2 separate regions of the Homo sapiens genome follow, and region 2 is linked to region 1. Evidence: fine-mapped QTL for protein levels in blood plasma. A gene starts in region 1. The other region holds a variant in brackets. All regions are shown on one strand. Distances are between the middles of the regions.

Region 1 (16,080 bases):
TCCTTCTCTGCAGGGCAAAAGAAGGAAAGAAAAATTACCCATTGATTTTGTAGAACTTCTTAATCAAATCTTGTCTCTTTGCAAAATCTCATTCTCAGTAAAGATGCTTATGAAAATCCCTCAGAAAAATATCACATGCGTAATAAAACACAACTTTTTAAATGGATTTCAGTCTGCCCTTCCTCACCACACTTCTTGTTCTGTCATTACTGAAATATTCCTGGGAAGTTTCCTCACCACAAATAATGCCCATGAGAAGCAGCGTGATAAGAGTCATTCACGTCCCAAGAATGTGGGTGTGTTGACAAACTTCAAAACTGGCTGGGTGACCTGATGATGTCTTATGCAAATGCCATTTTAAAGGAAGAAGCCCTTTCTTGGAGGTCTCATGCCTGGGTGTATGCATTTATGAAAGAGTCCTGTGCAGCAGTACAAAGAGTTGAATGCTACTTCTTGCGGGTTCTGCATGATTCTCAGGCTCGGTTATCTTTTTTTTTTTTTTAAGAGTACTGCCAGTTATATATTTGAGAGCCCCTTTGAAGAGGCCTCTGCCTTACAGCATAGGGTTGATTACTTACAAGTGTTCACTCCAATTCCCTTCCTCCTCAAGGCTCCACAGTCAGAAGCTACAGCCATGGGAAGCTTTGAGTATTTCTCCTTTCATGTCCGTCCCCCACACCCCACCTCTTGAACCTGTCCACTGGATAATGGTTAAGTGTTTCCACCAGTGTTATAAGGTAAATCCTGATTTATAAAATTGAATTAGCTGATGAATAACTGATTTTTTAAAAACGCAACATTCAGTTCAAGATTTCTGCAATTTGTGACATCAGCTAGGATTAAAGCTGAGTCTCTAAAAGGTAAATGAAGCCAAATAAAAAAATGAAAAACTGGAATCCAAGGGTATTCTGAATCCAAAAAATATGTACATATGCTAAAGGTGATATTTTAAATCACTTTTGAGATCACAGAAATCATTCCCCAAAATGGTACTGGAACAATAGCACGCAGACTTGTGGGAAAAGGAAGCTGTAATATTAATAATTAAGTACCATGGACTCTGACATAAAATGCTTAGGGTCAAATTCCTACTTTGGTACTTAAAAACCATATGGCCAATGACAAGTGATTTAACCCCTCTAGGTTTCAATGTCCTTTTCTGTAGAAGGAGAAGAATAAAATAACCTACCTTATAGCATTGGCATGAGGATTAAATGGGCTTATGAGAACCTACATACAGCAAACCCAGTTAATGTTAATTTTATCATTAAGTCTATTGCCTCATTTCCTTCAGCAAAATAAATTCCAGATGAACAAAGATATCAATGCAAGGAATAAAACCATTAAAAGTACTAGATTAAATCATAGGTAAATAGTTTTATAATCTGTTAGGCATGATATAAAACTCATAAGCAAAAAAGATAAGGATGTAGGGGGAGGGTGAAGAATGATAAAGATAGCTATACTGATTAACAAACATTGAAACATTTTAGTGCTTTAAATGAAAACAATAGGGCCGGGCGCGGTGGCTCACGCCTGTAATCCCAGCACTTTGGGAGGCCGAGGCGGGCGGATCACGAGGTCAGGAGATCGAGACCATCCTGGCTAACACGGTGAAACCCCGTCTCTACTAAAAAATACAAAAAATTAGCCGGGCGTGGTGGTGGGCGCCTGTAATCCCAGCTACTCGGGAGGCTGAGGCAGGAGAATGGCATGAACCCAAGAGGCGGAGCTTGCAGTGAGCCAGGATAGCGCCACTGCAGTCCAGCTTGGGCGAAAGAGTGAGACTCCGTCTCAAAAAAAAAAAAAAAAAAAAAAAAAAAAAATGAAAACAATAGTTTCAATATGTATCACAAAGAGCTATCCCTCATATACAAAGAGTTCTTAGAAATAAGTAAAAACAGGCATACAACTCTGTAGAAAAACATGAATACATAATTCATGAAAAGAGGGAAATACAAATATCACCCTTCCCTACAAAAAACTTGGCAAGATCACTAAGAATTAAAGACAATTGTGTGTGTGTGTATGTCTGTGTATGTCTATGTAGTATCCAATTGGTAACGTTTAAAAAGGTCTTAATACCTCACATTGGTAAGAGTTTACAGAAATAAGCATTGTGACTCACTAATGATCAAAGCATACAACCTTACAGAGGTCCATTTGACCACATCTACTAAAATTCTATGTGTATTTCTCTTGATCCAGAAATCATTCTGTAATTCTATTGCTGAAATTTTGCCCTACAGATGATAGACAGAGTATTGCACATGTTGTACGCAAATGTGTTTAAAGACTGTTATAGCACTGTGTACATGAGGGAAAAAATAAAAATCCAAGAGCCTTTCAAAAAGAACAGAAAAATAATTATGGTGCATTTCTACAAAGGAACAACATGCAACTGTTAAAAAGAATGAACTAGATCCATGCACTGACATGGAAAAATATTCTAAAATATTGAGTGAATGTATTAGTTTGTTTTCACACTGCTGATAAAGACATACCAGAGACTGGGTGATTTACAAAAGAAAGAGGTTTAATGGACTCACAGTTCCACGTGGTTGGGGAGGCCTCACAGTCATGGTGGAAGGAGAAAGGCACATTTCACATGGTGGCAGACAAGAGAAGAATGAGAGCCAAGTGAAAGTGGTTTCCCCTTATAAAACCATCAGATCTCGTGAGACTTATTCTCTACCACGAGAACAGTATGGGGGAAACTGCCCCCATGATTCCGTTATCTCGTACTGGGTTCCTCCCACAACATGAGGGAATTATGGGAGCTACAGTTCAAGATGAGATTTGGGTGGGGACACAGCCAAACCACATCAGTGAATAAGTCAGTTTCAAAACAGTATATACCTAAGAACATCTCTGAAAGAGAACTGTGGCAGTGTGCAGCTGTGCCCCTCAGTGCTCCCTTCAAGAGAGCGTAGATGACTGACAGCCTTCAGACACTGCCCCTTCAGATCTGTGGAAGATTCACACACCCCAGGCTGCTCCCACCCAATGGCTGCAGCTGGAAGCAACTCCTTCCCACCTTCCTTCCTCCCCATCTCCTTCCACAGGCATCACACCTGCACTGGGTCTGAAGGCTCTGTGCCTACAGTTACTCCCTTTCCCCTTACAAGTCCTTCCCCCAGTAAATCTCTTGCACATGTGTTTCTGGCTTGCTCTCTTCTACTTGAGGGATCCAAACCAGCCCCAAAGACACACCCACTTACTAAGTTATAAATTTAGAGCTGAGATGGAGGGAGGGAGGTGGGCAGAATAAGAGAAATTATAGATAACTCACTTTAAGTTATACAGTTCTGCAACATAAAGCATTCCTTAAAACGTGTGTGTGTGCATGTTTTAAACATATTAAGCTCAGTCTTGTGCAAGTGGCAATTTCCTTATTTCCACACTTGAAACCATATATCCCAACATGATTAAACTAGTTGACAGTGTTTGTGTTTCCAGTCCAACCCATGGTATTGAACAGACTTGAAAAAGGTTGGCAGTTTTTACCTACTGGATCAGCCTGGGAGGATGCCGTGTTTTTCTGTACAGAAAATGTAACCTCTTAGGTTCTGAGAGAGTGTAGATACTTTAATGATCTATTTCCAAATGCAAAAAGTAACCAGTGTCCTGAGTAGAAAAATCATACTACCATCCCCGGCTGACAGACAGACACACTGAAGTATATATATGAAGTAAATTTGCTCAAAATCCCCCATTAGGGAGATTGAAAGTAGAAAGAGGTGACCAAGAAATACCACGGTGTATGAAAAATTTACTCACAAGAAAGCGTAACTTCTGTTGATGCACATCTTCTCAAAAGCTGGCATTACACATGAACAATGAAACCTCAATCACTCTTTTCTGAGAATTATTTTGTCTTACATTTTTCCAAGTGTTCTTTATGTCTTACATTTTTCTATTTGCAGAAGCCACTTACAATTGTGCTTTTCTTTAGTTGACATTAAATGTCATATTCAGGCTGCATATATTTTATATGACTGTCTTCATCTTAAGTCAACAGTTTAAAATAATCCAGATAGTTAATTGCCTCAATGACTCTAGATCTAAGAACAGAGCTAGGTATTCTATTTAGCGATCTCACCAACCCTCTTTCTTTTAACAAAAATAAAGGAAGAGAGGGAGAGAAGAAGGAAGAAAGGAAAACAACTATAATTTAGTTCTTTAGCATGTAATTTTAAAAGAAATCAATTTAAAAATGCTTTCAATCATATTCATTACAAATAGGAAGTACTATCACTAGCAGCATAAATTTAAATAGTTGTACAAGACTGTACACCCAAATGTGGACAAAGGACCAGCAGTATTGACATCACCTGGTAGCTTGTCAGAAATGCAAAATCTCAGGCCAGACCTTAGACCTCTTGAATCTGCATTTAAATAATATCCTCAGGTGATTCATATGCACATTCAAGTTTGAGAAACACTACTATATTTAAAATATATGATATATTTTTGTCTCTTAGGATACTACCAATAAATAAAGGAAATATTTACTGGTTCCTATTACCAATAGGGCACTCTGCAAAACCATGAGTAGGATATAAATATGAAAAAGATCCCAGCTAGCATGTATAAGATACTAACTCTCTACAAGGTGCTTTGCTAAGTGACGTACATGCATTTATTAATTGAATCCTCACAACAGCGCTAAGAAAAGGATTATATTATTATTCCCATTCACAGAGGAGGAAATTAAGGATAAGAAAGTTGACAAGTAATTTATCCAAACTGACCCAGTTAATCTGATGTGTAGCCAATATTTGAAATCAGATAAGTCATTAACCAAAGTTCACATGACACAGTTTCCTTAAAGCTTGGAGCTCATACCAAAGTGGACATTAAAGCATTAAAAATTGCTAACAATTATAAACTCAATAAAATCTTAATTAAAAATAGGATTTTATTAAACTTGACAGGCTATTTGTAAAGAGAAAATGTATGTGATTTATAAAAAAAGTTGTTTTAAAAAGCACAAATATATACCACAAGATTTTCAAAAACACTATAAAGCTACAGTAGTTAACTCAGAGTAATATTGGTTTAGGGAAAAACAAACAAAAAAAAAGATCAATGAAACAGAATAGAATCCTGACACAGACCCTTTTACAAACAGGAATTTATTTAATGATAAAAACAGAATTTCAAATGAGTTGGAAAAAAGATGAATTATTAAATAAATGCTATTGGATCAGCTGTCTAAAACTTTACAAAAATATTAAGTTACATCGTTACCTTCCACTTCGTATCTATCAAGTGGAAAAAGGGGCAAACCCTTTGACACAGGAATACCTCTCCTCAGATTCTCTTCCACAGAAATACTCACACTTGAGCAGGAAGATGAATGTGTGATCTGCTCTGAAGCAACGTTGCTAATGCTGAATGTCCATCAATATAGGAAAGGATGGATAAATTACATTCTATTTCTACTTTAGGATAACATGTAGCTGGCCGGGCGCAGTGGCTCACGCCTGTAATCCTAGCACTGTGGGAGGCCAAGGCAGGTGGACTGCTTGAACCCAGGAGTTCAAGACCAGTCTGGGCATCATGGAGAGACCCAATCTTTACAAAAAATACAAAAAAAAAAAAGTCAGGTGTGGTGTCATGTGCCTGTAGTTCCAGCTTCTCAGGAGGCTGAGGTGGGAGGATCACTTGAGCCCAGAAGGTCGAGGCTGCAGTGAGCCATGATCATGACACTGCACTTCTGCCTGTGTGACAGAGTGAGACCATCTCACACACACACAAAAAGAATAACACGTAGCCATTAACAAAAGAGGTATCTAGAGACAATGGAAAGATCTCTAAGACTTGGAAAGTGAAAAAGCAAGCTGTACAATAAGTATAGTAAGATAATTTGCATATTTAAAACATATGTATATGTATGTATTATGTAAAACTATAGAAAAGAAAAACAAGCCTTAGAATGGTATTATCAAACTTAACCTTCCCTCTTCTGAGTGGGAGGAGGGAGGATGGTGATGGCACGTCTACATTTCACTTCACTTCTATATTGAGTGAGAATGAGTTGTTATTATTTGTATTATTTTTAAAACACAAAAATAGAATACAACGTGGAGTGCACAAATGCAGAGCGACCAGTACAACTAAAATGAGGAGGGAAGGAAGGCTATGAAGCCACCAACACAGCTGTTGGAAAAGAAATTCTCTCTTCATGTAGCTACAAAGAAGCCTGCTTGGAGGAGGGGATTTCTCCAGCAAGGCCATGATATTCTATTTGTTTTGGTTTGGGTTTTTTTCCCCCCATTTTACACATTTTTTAAGCAATCAAGAAGGATTTTCTCCCCCAGCGAAAGGAGGGCCAAGGCTCACAGTTCCTGTAAGTGAGCAAGACCACACTCACTAAGATTCTCTTCTACTGCAGCCAATGAATGCCCCAGTCCTTTCCCACAAGGAAAATACACACCTTCTTCTTGTTAAATACAGTACCACTGATTCCCCTTTGAAAACCGTAACAGTTCTCCTGATTCGGTTTTGTCCTCAGGACAAAAGGGTTACAAAAACATGAGAGATCCAGGAACACCTCTGCATGTGTTCCTGGTCTGTTCAGGTTAAAGAAAAGGGTAGAGGGGGAAAGAACCAGTGTTTATGTGTTCTCCCCAATGCGGCTCGGGTCCCTGCGGAAGAAACACCCAAGACCAGCCTTTTTCTCTCAAAGCCACCTTTGATACAAAAGGCTTAGCCACACCTGCTGGGACAAACGGGAACTGGGACCAAGATGTAAGTCACAAGGAGGCAATTTACAGCAGAGAACTAGCTCTTCCTACAATAAAATGTGAGGTGGTGAGCTTCCTGCCACTGGAGGCACTGAACAAATGCTACGGGGAAAACAAACTGAGTATTTCCTGAAGATTCTGAATAGAAGGCTGTGTTTGGAGTTTGATGCTTTGAAAGCTCAAGAAATGATTCTCAGACACAGCGGAGTTTGGGGACATCAAGGGCTCTGAGTGCATTTTAAAGCAGCCCAGGAGAGAGACAAAGCAAGACCATAATGAAACACCCCACCCAGTCTTAGAGTTTGAGCTACAGCACGGTGATCATGAGCAGACTCCAAACCCAAATCCTGATACTGTCACCTGCTAGCTGTGTAACCCTAGAAAAGTTACAAAACCTCTTTGGGCCTCAGTTTCCTCAATAAAATATAATAAAAAACTAGTACCCGCCTCACCCGTGAAGCTTAAATGAGCTAGCATATGTCAAGTGCTTAGAATAGGGGCTGGTTCACAGTAAGTATGAACCATTATTATTTGCAGACAAGGAAACTAAGAGGTGATAAGTAGTTTGACCCATGTTCCAAAGTCAGTTTTAATCTTGGGAATAAAACCTAAAAATTTCTTTCTCCTCCATCAGAATTCCTTCTAGCTCAAACTAAGTATCCTACATTCAATTCTATCTTCTCTGCCTTCATAGACCCTTCCATTTACTTCTCTTGAATATCTTGTTCCCAAAGTGTTTTCAAGGCAGGTCTGTTACCAAGCCACTCCATCAGCAGCACCTAGCACTGTGCCTCCCGCAGCAAGGCAGGCAGGATGGATGGACGGATGCAGGCATGCATGGGTAGGTGGATGAAGGGCAGATGAAGAACTATCGAGAAAGGAATCGCGGTGTCAGGGGTAAAGCCCTGGCCTGCGAGAGCCGGGCTCGGATTTCAGTGCCCTCACAGCTAGCCATATGGCCTTGGACAAGTTACTGAACCCCTCCGTGCCTAGGTTTCCAGAATGTAGAGGGCCACTTCCACTCAAGTGGCTGGAGAAGAAGGTAAGCGCCCCGGACGGACGCTATTGCAGAGTCGCCCGGGGATTCCTCTCTCCACCTGTGCTTGAGCTCCTCCCGCTTCTACGCTAGGGACCAGGTGGGAGAGATACACGGATTCCCAGAAAAATGGCTCTCTCAGGTGGGAGTCAAGGGTTACGAGAGGAGAGGTAGGGGAAGCAATGAACTCCTCCACACGATGTGTTGGGAGAGAGGAAAGAGGGATTCAAGTGGGAATTTTCCACTCAACAAACATTCCACCATCATTTGAGAAAAAGGCGCTGGGATGGTGAATTTCAAACAGTCTGAGAAATGGGCGACTCGGCACTGTGCGGCCTGTAAGGAATGAATCATTTAGTTTTCACCCACCAGGTAGGCAGGCCGGGGGCGAGGACCCTCCGAGCGCCGTCCGAGCGCAGGTGGTAGCCCAGCCAAGCAAACGCTGGGCAGAGGCGGCACCGAGGAGGGGAACGGGCTGCTGCACTCCCGGTCGCGTCCAGCCGGGATGGGCTGCGAAGTTGTCGGATTCTTTCCCGCACAGCACGGGGCTCGCCCGTCGGAAAAGCCACCGAGGGCGGCGCAGCGGCAGGGCGCGAGCAGAGCGGGGACGGGCGGGTCGGGGGTACTCACGCCGCGGGCGAAGGGCTCCACGAGCCGGGCCGAGTCCTCGGCGGCGCGTGGGGCGCGGGTGCGGGCTCCGGGGCGGACGTGCAGAGGCGGCCCGGGCCGGGGCTATGAATCAGCTGCGGGGCAAGCGCGGAGGGGCGGGAGTTACTGGAAAACCGCGGGGGAGGGCAGAGGGGTGAGGTCTTTTGCAATTTCCCGTCTTGCTGCGCACTCTTGGCACTCCTGGGACCCACAGGAATTCCCTCCCTTCAGTCCCGGGGGGAGGCGGCCGCGATCCTGGGGGAGGCGCAGCCTCACAACCCGGACTTTGCGGGCGGGCGGGCACTGGTGAGAAGAGGAAGTGGGAGAGGCCTGGGAAGGAAACTTGGAAACCGAAAACTCGGCGGCCGAGGCTCCGTGCCCCGCGCGCAGCGCTGCTCCTGCCCCGGCCAAGGACGCACGGGCCAGCCGGCGGAACCAGAGGTAAGCCGAGTGACCGATGAGGCCTGGGGCTGTGTATCCCACAGGGGCACTTGTCATCCCAACCCAGAGGCCAAACCCGTGAGATCCCCGTCCGAAAATCTTCAGGCAAGAGAAGTCCTTTAACTAAATTTTGGCCGTGTTTCCATTTGGCGTCCAGAGCAACGAAAACGTGTTTGAACCGAATCAAACGGTCCCCATTTTTCCCCTACTCGCGTTCTATCCAGAAACGCCCTGTCCGACAAAGTTTCTTCGGCTACAACAGTCCCGAAACCTTTATTTCCCAATGCTACGACATGCTACACATGGTTTACTTTTCCCCTTAAAAATGCCATCCAATCTTCAACCTTTTTTTTTTTTTTTTTTTGAGACGGCATCTCACTGTGTCACCCAGGCTGGAGTGCAGTGGCGCGATCTCGGCTCACTGTAAGCTCCGCCTCCCGGGTTCACACCATTCTCCTGCCTCAGCCTCCCTAGTAGCTGGGACTACAGACGACCGCCACCACGCCTGGCTAATTTTTCTATGTTTAGTAGAGACGGGGTTTCACCGTGTTAGCCAGGATGGTCTCGATCTCCTGACCTCGTGATCCGCCCGCCTCAGCCTCCCAAAGTGCTGGGATTACAGGCGTCAGCCACTGCGCCCGGCCAAAAATGCCATCCAATCTTTACCGTGTCTGGGCCTTTGAAAGGTGCATTTCACCTCTCTTAGAGGATAACAGGAGCCTTCCGAGGCAGCCTCGGACCGGGAGCTCCCATAGCCTCGCCTGTCTGGATGCCTGACAAATCAGCAGGCAAGGGGCCTTGCTCCAGATCAGCTGAGCCTAGTTTGGTTTGAGTTTGGGGACCCTGGAAAGTATCACAAAAGCAAGGTTGTAGGAGGGGGGTGGGGGAGGGAACCAAGAGTGATCAACAAGTATCGACCATAAACATATCTTAGAATCCTATATTGAATTGACTGGATGACTCAAAATAATGTCAGAATTATTTTAAAATGTTACTTTTGTGTTTGTTCACATATCTGGCTCCTCCCCAATGTCATCCCAAGGAAAGCTGAGAGTCCTTTTGTTTTTTTATTTTTCCTAAAACAAAGGCCTAAAGGCCCTAATACACTTAATACCTAATGGGGCCACAAAGACCATGATGCATAGTAAATATTTGATGATAATAAAATGTATTTTTGTCTCAATAAATGTATGGTCCTTTGCCACACCTCTCATTACTTGAAGAGTTTTAAAGAGTCCATTAGTTTAGCCATCTGCATGGTTATGGAAACTGCCAAGCCCAAGAGTTGGAAAGTCTTTATGATTTTATATTTTACTGAGAAAAAAAATTATTCTTTATAGAAACAGTTAAAAGGGATCTCTCTTCTAGCAAATGAGATGTCAAATAAAAATATTCAGCCCAGTATGAATTTCTAAAAAGTGAGGCTTATTTTGGGCTCCTATTGCAATTGAAGGAGACTGAAGTGTAAAAATTTGGTGCCCACATATAATTTATCTGTTTTTGCACCATTCTAATTTCTTAAATTTATACGTTATTCTAGAATCTAGATGCAGTAGCACCATATAAATTCGCGATTATACCCTTAACAGTGGGTGCACTGGGTCCATAAAGTCAGATCCACCCAAAACCTCCAAATATCAGTTTATTTGGAAATAATGTTTTTGCAGCTTTAATCAAGTTAACCTGAGGTCATATAAGATTAATCCAGTGTCTGCTGTACTTCTGAAAAGGGGGGAATTTGGACACAGACACCCAGAAAGAACACTGTGTGACCACTGAGACAGATCCTGCTTATGCTGACTCAAGCCAAGGAATGGCAAGGTTGCTGACCACCACCAGAAGCTAGGAGAGAGGAACGGAACAGGCTCCCTTTGAACCCCTAAGAAGAAGCTAGCCCTGCCAACATCTTCATTTCAGACTTCTGGCCTCCAGATTGAGAATACATTTCTGTTGTTTTAAGCCACCAAGTTTGTGGTAATGTGTTATGGCAGCCTTAGGAAACTGATACATAGGTTATGTTCCATAAGTTAGTTTTAAACAATTATCCTGAAAATAACTAATAGGAAAAAGATGAAAAATACCAATGGCTTATTAAGCTAAGAGCTAAAATATCCATCCTTGCTTAGTTTTGATAAGATTGTGTGGCCAAGGCACATATTATTCTGCTTCGTTAAACACTCTTTTTATTTTTTTATTTGTGTGTGTGTTTTTATTTTTAATTTATTTATTTATTTATTTATTTAGAGACGGAGTCTTGCTCTGTCACACAGGCTGGAGTGCAGTGGCACGATCTCAGCTCACTGCATGCTCCGCCTCCTGGGTTCACACCATTCTGCCTCAGCCTCCCGAGGAGCTGGAACTACAGGCGCCGGCTACCACGCCCAGCTAATTTTTTTGTATTTTTAGTAGAGACTGGGTTTCACCGTGTTAGCCAGGGTGGCCTCAATCTCCTGACCTCGTGATCCTCCTGCCTTGGCCTCCCAAAGTGCTGGGATTACAGGCGTGAGCCACCGCGCCCGGCCCATTAAACACTCTTTCTTGACGTTCTCTCTTCCTTTTGATTTCAGTAGCAATACTCTCTCCATTCTTCTTTCATTTCCCTGACTTCCTCCTCCCTCATATTTTTGGACTTCTTGTTCTCCACTTGCCCCCTACATGTTGGTGTTTCCCAGGGCCCCAGGGCCCCCTGAATAATCATATTCACATCCAGGATTTCAATGATCACTTGTGCCTTGATGGCTCTCAGCTCTTCCTTTCCATTGCAATGATTTCATCTGCACTCCAGACAGTACTTTGAAATTAGTATGCCCGAATTCAAACTTCAGTTATGCTCACTTGATTTTATTATACTAAGTGAATGGTCCAGCCTTTAACCTTTACTAAGTTAATGGGCCAGCCTTCATTTAGTGTCCTCTGGACACTGAAGTTAAAACCCTGGGAATGATTCTCGATCCATCCTCTTTCATCTTCCATCTTCCATCAGAAAGTCTCATATGTATAACTATTATGGAGGAGGGATTAGTGGAATGTATTGCCAACCTATCTAACTTCTCAGAGGAAAAATAGTTCTATAACTGTCAGGAACATTATATTTGTCTATATCTCTATATCTATGTTTACATACATCTATGAAATCAGCTATGTAAATTGTGAAATATAATTATGATTCTATTTATTCCACTACTGTAAATAGCTATAATTACAAGATGGCAGCATTTTGTTACCAACTGATGGAATTTGAAGGTATCGGGGATTTTGTGAAGAAAGTGACTTCATCACCTAAGCAGTGGATAATGGTTTACAATTACCCTCATCGACAAGTTCTGTAGAATTCTGTTTTGTTGGCATATTATCACATTTGACTCTTTTTAAATGAGACAGGGTCTGTGTCACCCAGGCTGGAATGCAGTGGTGCAGTCTCGGCTCGCTGCAACCTCCGCCTCCTGGGCTCAAGCAATCCTCCCACCTCAGTCCTCCAAGCAGCTGGGACTACAGGCACGCGCCACCATGCTTGGCTAATTTTTGTATGTTTTATAGAGACAGGGTTTTGCCATGTTCTCCAGGCTGGTCTCGAACTCCTAGGCTCAAGTGATTTACCCACCTCAGACTCCCAGATTTCTGGGATTATAGATGTGAGCCACAGTGCCCAGCTGACATTGACATCTTAAAGATTCACTTTTAGGCCTTAACGCGTGCCTCTGTGATTATTATTGGTGGTGATATTGGCCTTATTTCTAAAAAAAAGTTATTGGAAATTAAAATTATTTTGTGGAAATAATTATTTTGTGGAAAGCTAAACAGGTCTTCCAAAAAAAAATTTAATCTGAAATTTATCATAAAGCTTGATTAATTAAAGGACATCTGTTACTGAACTGAACTGGGTCCATTTGCCCACTGTGCAATGGAAAGCCAAACACCAAAACACTCGGTTTTCATAGCATGAAAAATTTATTGCAAGGCTACCAAGCAAGGACACGGGTCTGGCTCAAATCTGTGTCCCCACCTGGCACTTGGGTCAGGTTTTATAGCCAGAGGGTAACAAGGCATGACCTGATTGCATCTTGCAATAAGGTGAGGCTGGGAGGCACCATCTGACTAGATCCTGCCATGAGGTGACACCAGGGCGCAATCTCATTGGATCCTGGATCCTGCCATGTGGTGTCCACTTCTTAATTTAGTGATCCAAGCATTTAGGTTCTGCCCATGGTTGCATTCTTAGTTCATCTGAGCCTCCTCAAGTTACATGACCTTCAACCTGGGGGTCCATGGCAACTAAAAAACAACTCACAGCTTCGCTATATAAATGGTGAACCATAAAGTTGAACCAGCTAATTAACACAGGAACAGAAAACCAAACACTGCATATTCTTATTAGTGGGAGCTAAACATTGAATACACATGGACACAAAGATGGAACAATAGACACCAAAGCCTACTGGAGGGAGGAGGGTGAGGATTGAAAAACTACCTATCAGGTGCTATGCTTATTACCTAGGTAATGAAATAATCTGTACACCAATCCCCTCCTTGACACACAACTTACCCACATAACAAACCTGCACATCTACCCCCTGAACCTAAAATAAAAATTGGAAGAAAAAAAAAAAGTTGAACCAGACTGGTCTGGTGCAGTTACACATCTAACACTTCTAAATATCCAAAAAAGTGGCACTGCAATGACAAAGCAAGATGTTGAGCGTAAGAAGACTATGTGGGACTTTCTCATTTTATCATTTTAGGAATTCCCTATAATTACTTAATGATGAATTGCTTTTCTTTCAAAATCTCTTAAGTGATGAATAATATTATCCACAATAATTCTACAGGAATTCCTTGATTAAACTAGATATTATCTGAAAATTGATTGATTGATTGATGGATGGATTTTGCACATTCCACCCTCTTCCAGATGTTGTAATTGTGCTCACACCTTCTTCCAGAAGTCATCAGAAACCAGACAATGAGGAGAACCTCCCTGGATCTTTTACTTTTTTTCCCTCAGGGACTTTAGGGAAAATATTGAATATTGATAGCTGCTTTTATTCTCTTGGCCTGTGGTTATGGCACTTACTAAATTTGAGTGCAGTTGTTAATGCTAAAGTTTAGAACATTAATACAGTGAGAGAGAAATACTTTGGAGAGAATTAGATGGGAACTTTCTGGATATTTGAAAACTATTGGCTTAAGGTTGATCCGAAATAAGTCTATAGTTGTGTTTATATTTAAACTGAATCTCTTACAGAAAACATATAGTTGAGACTTTTTTTTAGAAGTTGACTGACAATCTCTGCATTTTAATTTGATAGAGAGTGTTTAGTAGACTTATATTTAAGGCAGTTATTGATATGCTTGTGTTTAGCCTACCATTTTACTATAGGTTTTGTGTTTTGTTCTCTCTGGTTTTGTTTTTTTATTCTTCTTTTTCTTCTTTTTTTTCTGGACTATATAAATACTTTTTATCTTTTTATATTTCCATTTTAATTTTTTTAGAGTTGGGGTCTCACTCCATTGCCCAGGCTGGTCTCAAACTCCTGACCTTAAGCGATCCTTCCGCCTCAGCCTCCCAAGTAGCTGATATTACAAGCATGAGCCACCATATCTGCCTTTGAACGCTTTTTAAATTTCATTTTTATTTGCCTTTGTCTTTTTCTTATTTCTCTTTGCATGATGTCTTAATGTTTTCTCTATGGATTACAGTGTACATTCTTAAATTTCACTGTGTACTTGAAATAGTATTGTACCTTTTCACTTAATAGGTCCATTTAACCACACACCCCATCCTTTACACTATAGTTGTAAAGTGTATTACATCTACAGACAAGATAAAACCCACAATATAGTATGTATTTTAAAGAAATTAAGAGGAAAACTACTCTTTTATATTTATACACATATTTACCTTTAATGTTCTTAAATCCTTCCCAAAGATCTAAGCTTCTCTCTGGTAGCATTTCTGTAAGCCTAACAAACTTACTTTAGTATATTTTTTATTGGAAGTCTATTGGAGATACATAGTATTAGTCTTATTTTATTTGAAAATATCTTTATTTCACTTCGTCCTCAAGGAATATTTTTGTTGGATAGAATTCTATTTTCTTTCAACTATTTAAAGATACTGTTCTACATTTTACTGCCTTTCATTGCTTCTGATGAGAAGTCAGCCATTATTTGATTCTTCTTTCCTCTGTCAATATAATGTGTCATTTTTTCTCTGGTTTAAATATTTTCTCATTATCTTTGATTGTCAATAGTTTATCAACTATGTGCTTAGAAGTTTTAAAATTATTATTTACCCTGCCTGGCATTTGCTAAGCTTCTTGAATTTATAAATTTATGTCTTTTACCAAATTGGAGAATTTTTCAGCCTGTATATCTTTTTAGTACCTTTTCTGCACCATTATCTTTCTTATCTTTTTGAAATTCCGACTACAAGTATGTCAGACCCCTTAATATAGTCCTAAATGCCCATGAGCCTCTGTTGTTTTTCAACTTTTTTTCTGTGCTCTTCAGATTCAATAATTTCTATTGAACTATCTTTAAGCTTACAAATTCCTTTTGTGTTATATTCGTTGGGCTATTATATCCATCTAGTAAATTTTGTGTCATATATATGGTATATTTCAGTTCTAGAATTTCAATCTGTTCTTTTAAAATATATTGTCTATTTCTATACTGGTTGTCCCTATTCTTTTTATTATTATGAACATATTTTCCTTTGCTTCATTGAGCATAGTTATTATAGTTGCTGCTTTTAAAACATTGCTTCATTATTCCAATATTTACATCATCTTTTAGTCAATCTCCACTGATTTTTTTCTTTTATAAGAATGGATTACATTTTCCTGTTTTTTTTATTTACCTATTTTTGGATTGTCAAATAATTTTGGAGTGCAACCTGTGCGTTATAAATATTATGTGATGAAGATTCTGTTCTATTCCTCCAATGACACTGATTATCTTTTAAAATGGCAAGCAGTGTGGTTAAACTCAAACTGCAAACCTGATATTGCTTACAGTAAGTAGAAGCTCAAATCTGAATTCACTTTTTAATGTTGACCAGGCTGCTTTGAGTTTGCCTTGCACAAGCATGGTTCAGAGATTATCCAATAATTGGTATTTATTTTAAATACAGAATTTGGGCTTCTTCCTCTCTTGCTCCCTCCTTTATGTTTTCCCGCCTCACTTTCCAAATAATGTTGTTGC
Region 2 (8,000 bases), 62 kb before region 1:
ATAGTTTGACTTCTGACTTCCTCTTTTTCTATTTGGATGCTTTTTTTTTTCTTTCTCTTGTCTGATTGCTCTGGCTAGGACTTCCAATATTATATTGAATAGGAGTGGTGAGAGTGGACATCCTTGTCTTATTCCAGTTCTCAAGTGGAATGCTTCCAGCTTCTGCCCATTTAGTATGATGTTGGCTGTGGATTTGTCATAGATCTAGGCTCTTATTTTGAGGTATGCTCCTTCAACATGTAGTTTGTTGAGAGTTTTTAACATGAATGGATATTGAATTTCATCAAAAGCTTTTTCTGCATATATTGAGATGATTGTGTGGTTTTTGTTTTTAGTTCGGTTTATGTGATGAATCACATTTAGTGATTTGCGTAGGCTGACACAACCTTGCATCCCAGGGATAAAGCTTACTTGATTGTGGTGGATTAGCTTTTTAATGTGCTGCTGGATCTGGATTGCTAGTATTTTGTTGAGGATTTTTGCATCTATGTTCATCAAGGATATTGACCTGAAGTTTTCTCTTTTTGTTGTGTCTCTGACAGGTTTTAGTGTCAGAATGATGCTGGCCTCACAGAATGAGTTAGGGAGGAGTCCCCCAACTCAGTTTTTTTGGAATAGTTTCCGTAGGAATGGTACCAGCTCTTTATAACTCTGACAGAATTTGGCTGTGAATGCATCTGGTCCTGGGCTTTCTCTGGTTCCTAGGCTTTTTGTTACTGATTCAGTTTCAGATCCCACTATTGGTCTGTCCAGGGATTCAATTTCTTCCTGGTTCAATCTTGAGAGGCTGTATGTTTCCAGGCTGTATGTTTTCTAGTTTGTGTCCAAAAAGGTGCTCACAGTAATCTCTGAGAGTTTTTGTGTTTCTATGGGGTCAAGTGGTAATGTCCTCTAACATTTCTGATTGTGTTTATTTGGATCTTCTTTTATTCTTTATTAGTCTAGGTCGTGATCTATGAAACTTATTCTTCTTAATAACTCCTGGATTCGTTGATCTTTTGTATAGTTTTTTGCATCTCAATTTCCTTCAGTTCAGTTCTAATTTTGGTTATTTCTTGTCTTCTGACAGCTTTGGTGTTGGTTTGTTCTTGTTTCTCTACTTCTTTGAGGTGTGATGTTGGGTTGTTAATTTGAGATCTTTGTCACCCAGGCTGGAGTGTAGTGATGCAATCTCAGCTCACCGCAACCTCCACCTCCCAGGTTCCAGCAATTCTCCTGCCTCAGCCTCCCGACTGGCTGGGACTACAGGCACGTGCCACCACGCCTGGCTAATTTTTGTATTTTTTAGTAGAGATGGGGTTTCACCATATTGGCCAAGCTGGTCTCAAACTCCTGACCTCGTGATCTGCCCACGTTGGCCTCCCAAAGTGCTGGGATTACAGGTGTGAGCTACCGCACCCAGCCAAAACTTTACTCTTAACATGGCTTTGCTGTGTCTCAGAGATCCTGGTATATTGTTATCTTTCTTCTCATTAATTTCAAATAATTTCTTAATTTCTGCCTTAATTTCATTGTTTACCCAAAAGTCTTTCAGGAGCAGGTTAATTTCCATGTAATCGGGTGGTTTTGAGTAATTTTCTTCGTACTCATTTCTATTTTTATTGTGCTGTTGCCTGAGAGTGTGTTTGGTATTATTTCGGGTTTTCTTTTAATTTGCTGAGGATTGTTTTATGTCTAATTGTGAAGTCAGTTTTAGAGTATATGCCATGTGCAGATGAGAATAATGTATATTTGTTTTGGGGTGGAGAGTTCTGTAAGCCCATTTTGTCAAGTGTCAAGTTGAGGTCCTTACTATCTTTGTTAGTTTTCTGCCCTGATAATTCATGTAATACTGTCAGCAAAATGTTGAAGTCTCCTACTATTATTATGTGGCTATCTAAGTCTCTTTGTAAGTCTCTAAGAACTTACTTTATGAATCTGTGCGCTCTTGTGTTAGGTGCATATATATTTAGGATAGTTAAGTCTTCTTGTTGAATTGAACTCTTTACCATTATGTAATGCCCTTCTTTGTCTTTTCTGATCATTATTGGTTTAAAATAAATTTTGACAGAAATTGGAATACCAATCCCTGCTTTTTTCTGTTTTGTTTGGTTGGTAGATTTTTCTGCATCCCTTTACTTTGAGCCTGTGGGTGTCACTGCGTGTGATATAGGTCTCCTGTAGACAGCATACAGTTGGATCTTGCTTCTTTCTCCAACTTGCCACTCTGTGCCTTTTAATTGGGGCATGTAACCTGTGCGCATTCAAGTTTAATACTGGTATGTGTGGATTTGATCCTGTCATTGTCTTGTTAGCTGGTTATTATGCAGATTTGATTGCGTGGTTGCTTTATACTGTCAATGGTCTATTACTTAAGTCTGTTTTTGTGGTGGTTGGTAATGGACTTCCTTTTTCATATTTGGCACTTCCTTAAGGATCTCCTCTAAGGCAGGTCTAATGGTAGTGAATTCCGTTAGCATTTGCTTGTCTGAAAAGGATCTTATTTCTCATTCACTTATGAAGCTTAGTTTGGCTAGATATGAAATTCTTGGTTGGAATTTCTTTTAAGAATGTTCAGTACAGGCCCCAATCTCTTTTGGCTTGTAGCATTTCTGATGAAAAGTCCACTGTTAGCGTGATGGGGTTCCCTTTGTAGGTGACCCGCCCTGTCTCCCTAGCTGCCTTTAACATTTTTTCTTTCATTTCAACCTTGAAGAATCTGATGACTATGTCTTGGAGACATGGTGTCTTTGGGATGGTCATCTTGTATAGTACCTCACAGGAGTTCTCTGCATTTCCTGAATTTGAATGTTGTCCTCTCCAGTGAGGCTGGGGAAATTTTTGTGAATAATATCCTCAAATATGTTTTCCAAGTTGCTTGCCTTCTCTGCCTCTCTTTCAAGAACACCAATGAGTGGCTGAGTTGTTCTCTTTACATAATAATTTTTATTTTTTTCTTTATTTTTGTCTGACTGAGTTATATTGAAGAACTGGTCTTTGAGCTGAGACTCTTTCCTCAGCTTGCATTTGTATTATGAAATTCTTGAAATGAATTATTCAGCTCTATCAGATCAGTTTGATCCTTTCTTTAAATGGACATTTTGTCTTTTATCTCCTGTGTCATTTTGTTGTATTCCTTAGATTCCTCGGATTGGGTTTTCACTTTCTCTTGGATGTTGATGATCTTTGTTTCTATCCATATTCTGAATTCTAATTCTGTCATTTTGAACAGGTTAAGAACCATTGCTAGGATGCTAGTGTGGTCTTTGGAGGTAAGAAGATACTCTGGCTTTTTGAGTTGCCACTGAGTTCTTGCATTCTTTCCTTCTCATCTGTGTGGGCTGATGTTCCTTTAGTCTTTGAAGTTGCTGTCCTTTGGATGGGTTTTTGTTTTGTTTTATGTTTTATGTTATTTGATGTCCTTGGGGGACATCTGATTTTGATATAAGATGGGTTCAGTTGACTGGGTTCCCATCTGGAAGATTTTAAGGGGCCAAAGCTCAGCTTAGCACTCCTGGTCTGCATGCTCTAACTCTGCAGGACTGGTATCAGGCCCCCACCTTTGTTCTCTGGCCCCTCAAGGCTAGGAACCTGCTGTGTTGGAGAGGCCGAACTGATCTCAGTCTGCTGGCCACAAAACTCCAATGAGTGGTGCAGGCCAAAGCACTTCATCAGGGTAGTGGCAGCAGGGTCCATGCTCACTCACATGTGCCAGCAGCTAGGGCAGTGCAGTGGTTTGTATGTGCATCAGCTGGGGTGGGGTACCTCTGAGAGTAGGGCTGCAGGGTTCCTGCATGCAGTTGCCCTGGTGGGGGGATGCAGGCAGAGGCAGAAGTGCCAGTGACAGTGCTGGCACTGGTACTGGCAGTGGTGGAGGCAGGAGGCTACCAGTCTTTGTGCATGAGTTTGCACAGGCAGCAGTGGCAGTGCAGGGGTGGGTAGAGTTGCCAGCATCCATGCATGCATTCACATTGGCAGTTGTGGTGGCACTGGGAAGGCAGGGCCGTGGTTGTCTGTGTGCTGGTTTGCAGCAGCCACAGTGGCAGCACAGGGGTAGGGGCAGAGTTGCTGGTGTCTGTGCATGCATTTGTGCCAGTGATGGTGTTGGGGGGGTTGTGGGGCCATGCACACATTCACGCTGGTGGCAGTGTCAGCAGGAGTGGGGGTGGGGCTGCTGGTGTCCATGCACTCTTTCACACCAGAAATGGAAGCACCAGGGGAGGCAGGGCCACACGTTGTGCTTATGCCAACAGCAGCAGTGGGATATGTGCACACATAAGCCATTGGAGGAGAAGAGGCAAGGTCCACCCACACGTGTGCACTGGCAAAGTGGTGGTGGGGTGACCATGGACAAGTGCATACTGGCAAGGTGGCATTGGGTAGGCTGTGGTTGGGGGAGGCTGCAGGTGGGCTGATGCATGTCAGTAGGGACTGTTCTGCTGGAAATCTCCAATGGTCAGGTGCCATCTGCCAGCAAAGCAGCTATGATATGGTCCCCTAGGAAGCACCATAGTTGGGCATCTGAGGCTGCAACTCCAGCTAGTGTGGCAAGGCTGGAGCCTCAGGAGTGGCCAGCAGACAGGGGATCACTCAGATTGGACTGGCCCCATCTCATGGGTAAGACCATTCTCCTCTGTCTAGGTCTCATGGTCACCCTTTGGCCAAAGTCTCCTAGAGGAGCAAGGCAAGGCTTGGGGGATTTGTGTCCCTGGCCATGCTCCACTGCAGATGTTTCTGCACCAAACCCTCTGGGCCCTGCCCAGGATGGAGCTCTATTCCTACTACCTCTCTAAGAAGCTCTTCCTGCCAGTCCAATTGTCCATGAGGGTTGTG[G/A]GGTTTCCTGCTGCCTGGATTCCAAAGGTCCACGGCAGGGGCAGGCCGCCTGTTCAACCCCTTCCCCAGGAGTTGCTGGGGGCCAAGAACGAGTGTGGGTGCTTCATAGCCCTGTGCAGGGTATGCAGCTTCCTGACCCTTCAGCCCAGCTTCTGCATTCTCCCTGTGTCCACTCTTAATGTAGGGTTTTCTAGGTATAGAATCATATCATCAGCAAAGAGAGTTTGACTTCTTTTCCTTTTGGGATGTGTTTCTCTTGCCTGATTCCTCTGGCTAGGACCTCCAACTTCTATTTTTTAAATATGATTTCTGCATACTAAAATGGTTTAAAAAAATTTTGGCTGCTAAGTGTGAAAGTGTTAAATAGCAACTGTCACGAAATTAACAAAATTTAACAAAATTAAGGTGTTTCAAATATTAAAAAATAACTTTCCTATTTTTTTTAGTTTTTGGTTTGTGAGAGGACAAGTAATTTTTGATCTGATTCAGAACATTTCTTTGAAAGAAGAACTGTTTTGGAACATAACATTAAAATGTATCTCTCTATCTTATAAAAATATAATCTTTTTTGCCTAATAATTGACATTTAAGTTTTTTATTTTAGTTGCTGACTCAACACTTTATACTTTAAGTTAAAGGTGGCCATATATTTTTAAATCTATTAAAGCAGATTTCAATTTGCTAAATAAGTCATTGGAGAAGCCAATATTAAATTTAAAACTTTATTGAAATACTCAGGGACAATATCTAAGCTCAATGCAAAATCTTCAGCTGGCTTGTAAATTACTATTTATAACAAAAAAGTGCTACAATACAGTTGATAGCACTATATTTTATAAACAACATCATTTATACCATCAATTCATTTAACTCAATGTCTGCTCACTATAATTATACTTAAGCATGGTTATAATACACATAAAGATTTGAGTTTTCCAGCATTAAGCAAAGCGTGATCAGAAGTAATAAAAAATTCCTATAGGTTCACCTTCAGTAGATTCATCTCATTTTCTTGTCATCATCAAAAGCAAAGTTAAGCGTTTTCAAGATGTTAGATTATTACTATAATCTAAAAGAAACTCTATTCTTTTGCCATCTTCCCTTTTTACATAATTTTAGTTATGTTGGAATAAATTTTCAAAAAAAAAACAGAAAACGTAAAGCAAAATAATAAAAATTCTTTTCTAAAACACACTGAGGAAAATGCAACATTCCTCTCAGGAACAGGGCCTTCCAGAACAAAGATTATTGAGGAACCCGTACACCTAGGAAAAATTACTGGAGTCTCAATGGGCTTGAGGATAGGCAGACACCACCAGGGAAGCGGGGAGGCCTGCAGAACTTGACTAATGACCATCCTCATGTGTGGATTCTGATTAGCGGTGCCCACTACCCCCAAATTAGAGTCACTGCTTTAAAATGGTCCTCCCAGAATCAGACAGAAAGAGTTCTGCCAGCTGCCATACACAAATAAGAAGAATAATAAAATACATATGTATAATCCTTCCTTTGGCACTAAAATAGCCAGGACTTGAATCAACAAGATCTAGAGGTTGTAATAACACCAAGAGAGAGAACACACAGAATTGAGCTCTGATTAAGGGTGGAGCTCTGGTGTCAGGCTGCCTGGACGTGAGTCGCAGCTCAGTCAGTGCCTGGCTGAACCAGTTAAATTACTTAATCTTTCTGTGCCCTGATATCCTCTGGCATAAAATGAGGATCATAAGAGCACCTACTGCGTGTTGTCAGGATGAAAAGAGAGGAGCACAGAGGGCCCTTCGAGCTATGTATGGCTCACAGTAAATGTTGACTCCTATGATTTTTTTTTTTTTTGAGATGGAGTCTCACTCTGTTGCCCAGGCTGGAGTGCAGTGGCACGATCTCAGCTCACTGCAACCTCCACCTCCCAGGTTCAAGCGGTCTCCTGCCTCAGCCTCCCGAGTAGCTGGGATTACAGGCGTGTGCCACCACGCCTGGCTAATTTTTATATTTTTAGTAGAGATGGGGTTTCACCATGTTGGTCAGGCTGGTCTCGAACTCCTGACCACGTGATCCACCTTCCTCGGCCTCCCAAAGTGCTAGGATTACAGGTGTGAGCCACTGCACTCCTAAGATTATTACGATGTCTGTACCATTCAGTAACTGCAATCAGGGCAAATCTCTTCAGTTATGGGTGCAAGTTGCCTCATCTGTAAAATGGGCAACAGTTATCCTTTATGACATTGAGTTGGAGGGAGATGGAAGCAGGATTGGGCCATCAAATCTCCTGAGGCCCATTTGAGTTCTCAGACATAGTTATTTAGCAGGAAAAGTTTGCAGTCAATACTGAGGAAACCCTGCCACAGAGCATGCTGGAGAGGGCACACAGTGTGGCATCACCGGAACAAATGACTCACAAATAACCATTAAGGTTCCAAATGTCATTACATTTCCAAACATGGCCTCAAGTTGTTTAGGATGAGACCAATGCTTTCCTTGTCATTAACACTTCCACTGTCCTGAATTAAAGGTGTATACTAATTTATATAGCTCCAGATCTACTGTGAATCCAGCAAAGTGATGGCTTGAAACCATTTTGGGAAAATGAAAGGTAAGAGAGAAGATAGGCAGTATAAATAAAATACTACTGTCAACTGTCTGAGGTGGATGGTTTCCCATTCACTTCTCATGAGGCACCTAATCTAATTTTTTAAATGCTACCCCGCCTCTGTTTAAATATTTTTCTCTTAGTTTTTGGTACAACCAAAATCTCTTAAGGAAACCAGTCTAACTCCTAAGACCTACTTCTTTGGGTTAAATGCCAGGGGCTGAACATACCAGCTTCAAGTGTGGTGAAGTTCTGACCACTCCATTCACTCCATTTCCAGAAGTGGCTGGCATCAGCACACCGTACTCGCGCCATGTACTCTGTGGCAGGTTCCAGTTCACTTAAGAAGTACTCACCGTTCACCTTGATGGAAACATTGTACTGCTTGATCAAAAAAGAGAAGAAAAGAAAAAAGAGAAAAGAACAAGACAGAAACATTGGTGAGTGCATCCCATTACAAAGGCAAACCAGAGCACAGCAAATCCTGACCTGGAGTAAGATCAGTTCTTCTTTGGGGGGAAAAAAATCTTCAAGGCCCATTTCCTAACCATAAAAGTGTATGATTAATTTCATGGACCTTTTAAAACAGATGACCCACACC

Evidence for each region. A credible set is the group of variants that fine-mapping cannot tell apart. PIP is the posterior inclusion probability: the model's chance that the variant is causal. Protein levels are from the aptamer-based SomaScan assay of Sun 2018.
Region 2: its variant is the best candidate, but not a certain one, in a credible set for the plasma level of the OSMR protein (Sun 2018, PIP 0.53).

Annotation. Positions count from the first base shown.
Region 1 is chr5:38,838,465-38,854,544 of GRCh38, reverse strand. OSMR (oncostatin M receptor) reads right to left here and starts at 8,533. Exons shown (of 18, transcript NM_003999.3): 1 at 8,158-8,533. OSMR-DT (OSMR divergent transcript) reads left to right here and starts at 8,716. Exons shown (of 4, transcript NR_109951.1): 1 at 8,716-8,877.
Region 2 is chr5:38,904,133-38,912,132 of GRCh38, reverse strand. OSMR (oncostatin M receptor) reads right to left here. Exons shown (of 18, transcript NM_003999.3): 9 at 7,630-7,780. Among named protein-coding and RNA genes, the nearest start is that of OSMR, 62 kb to the right of the region's middle. RefSeq lists enhancers at 3,500-4,000, 4,001-4,501. The variant G/A (reference allele first, on the strand shown) is at 4,813.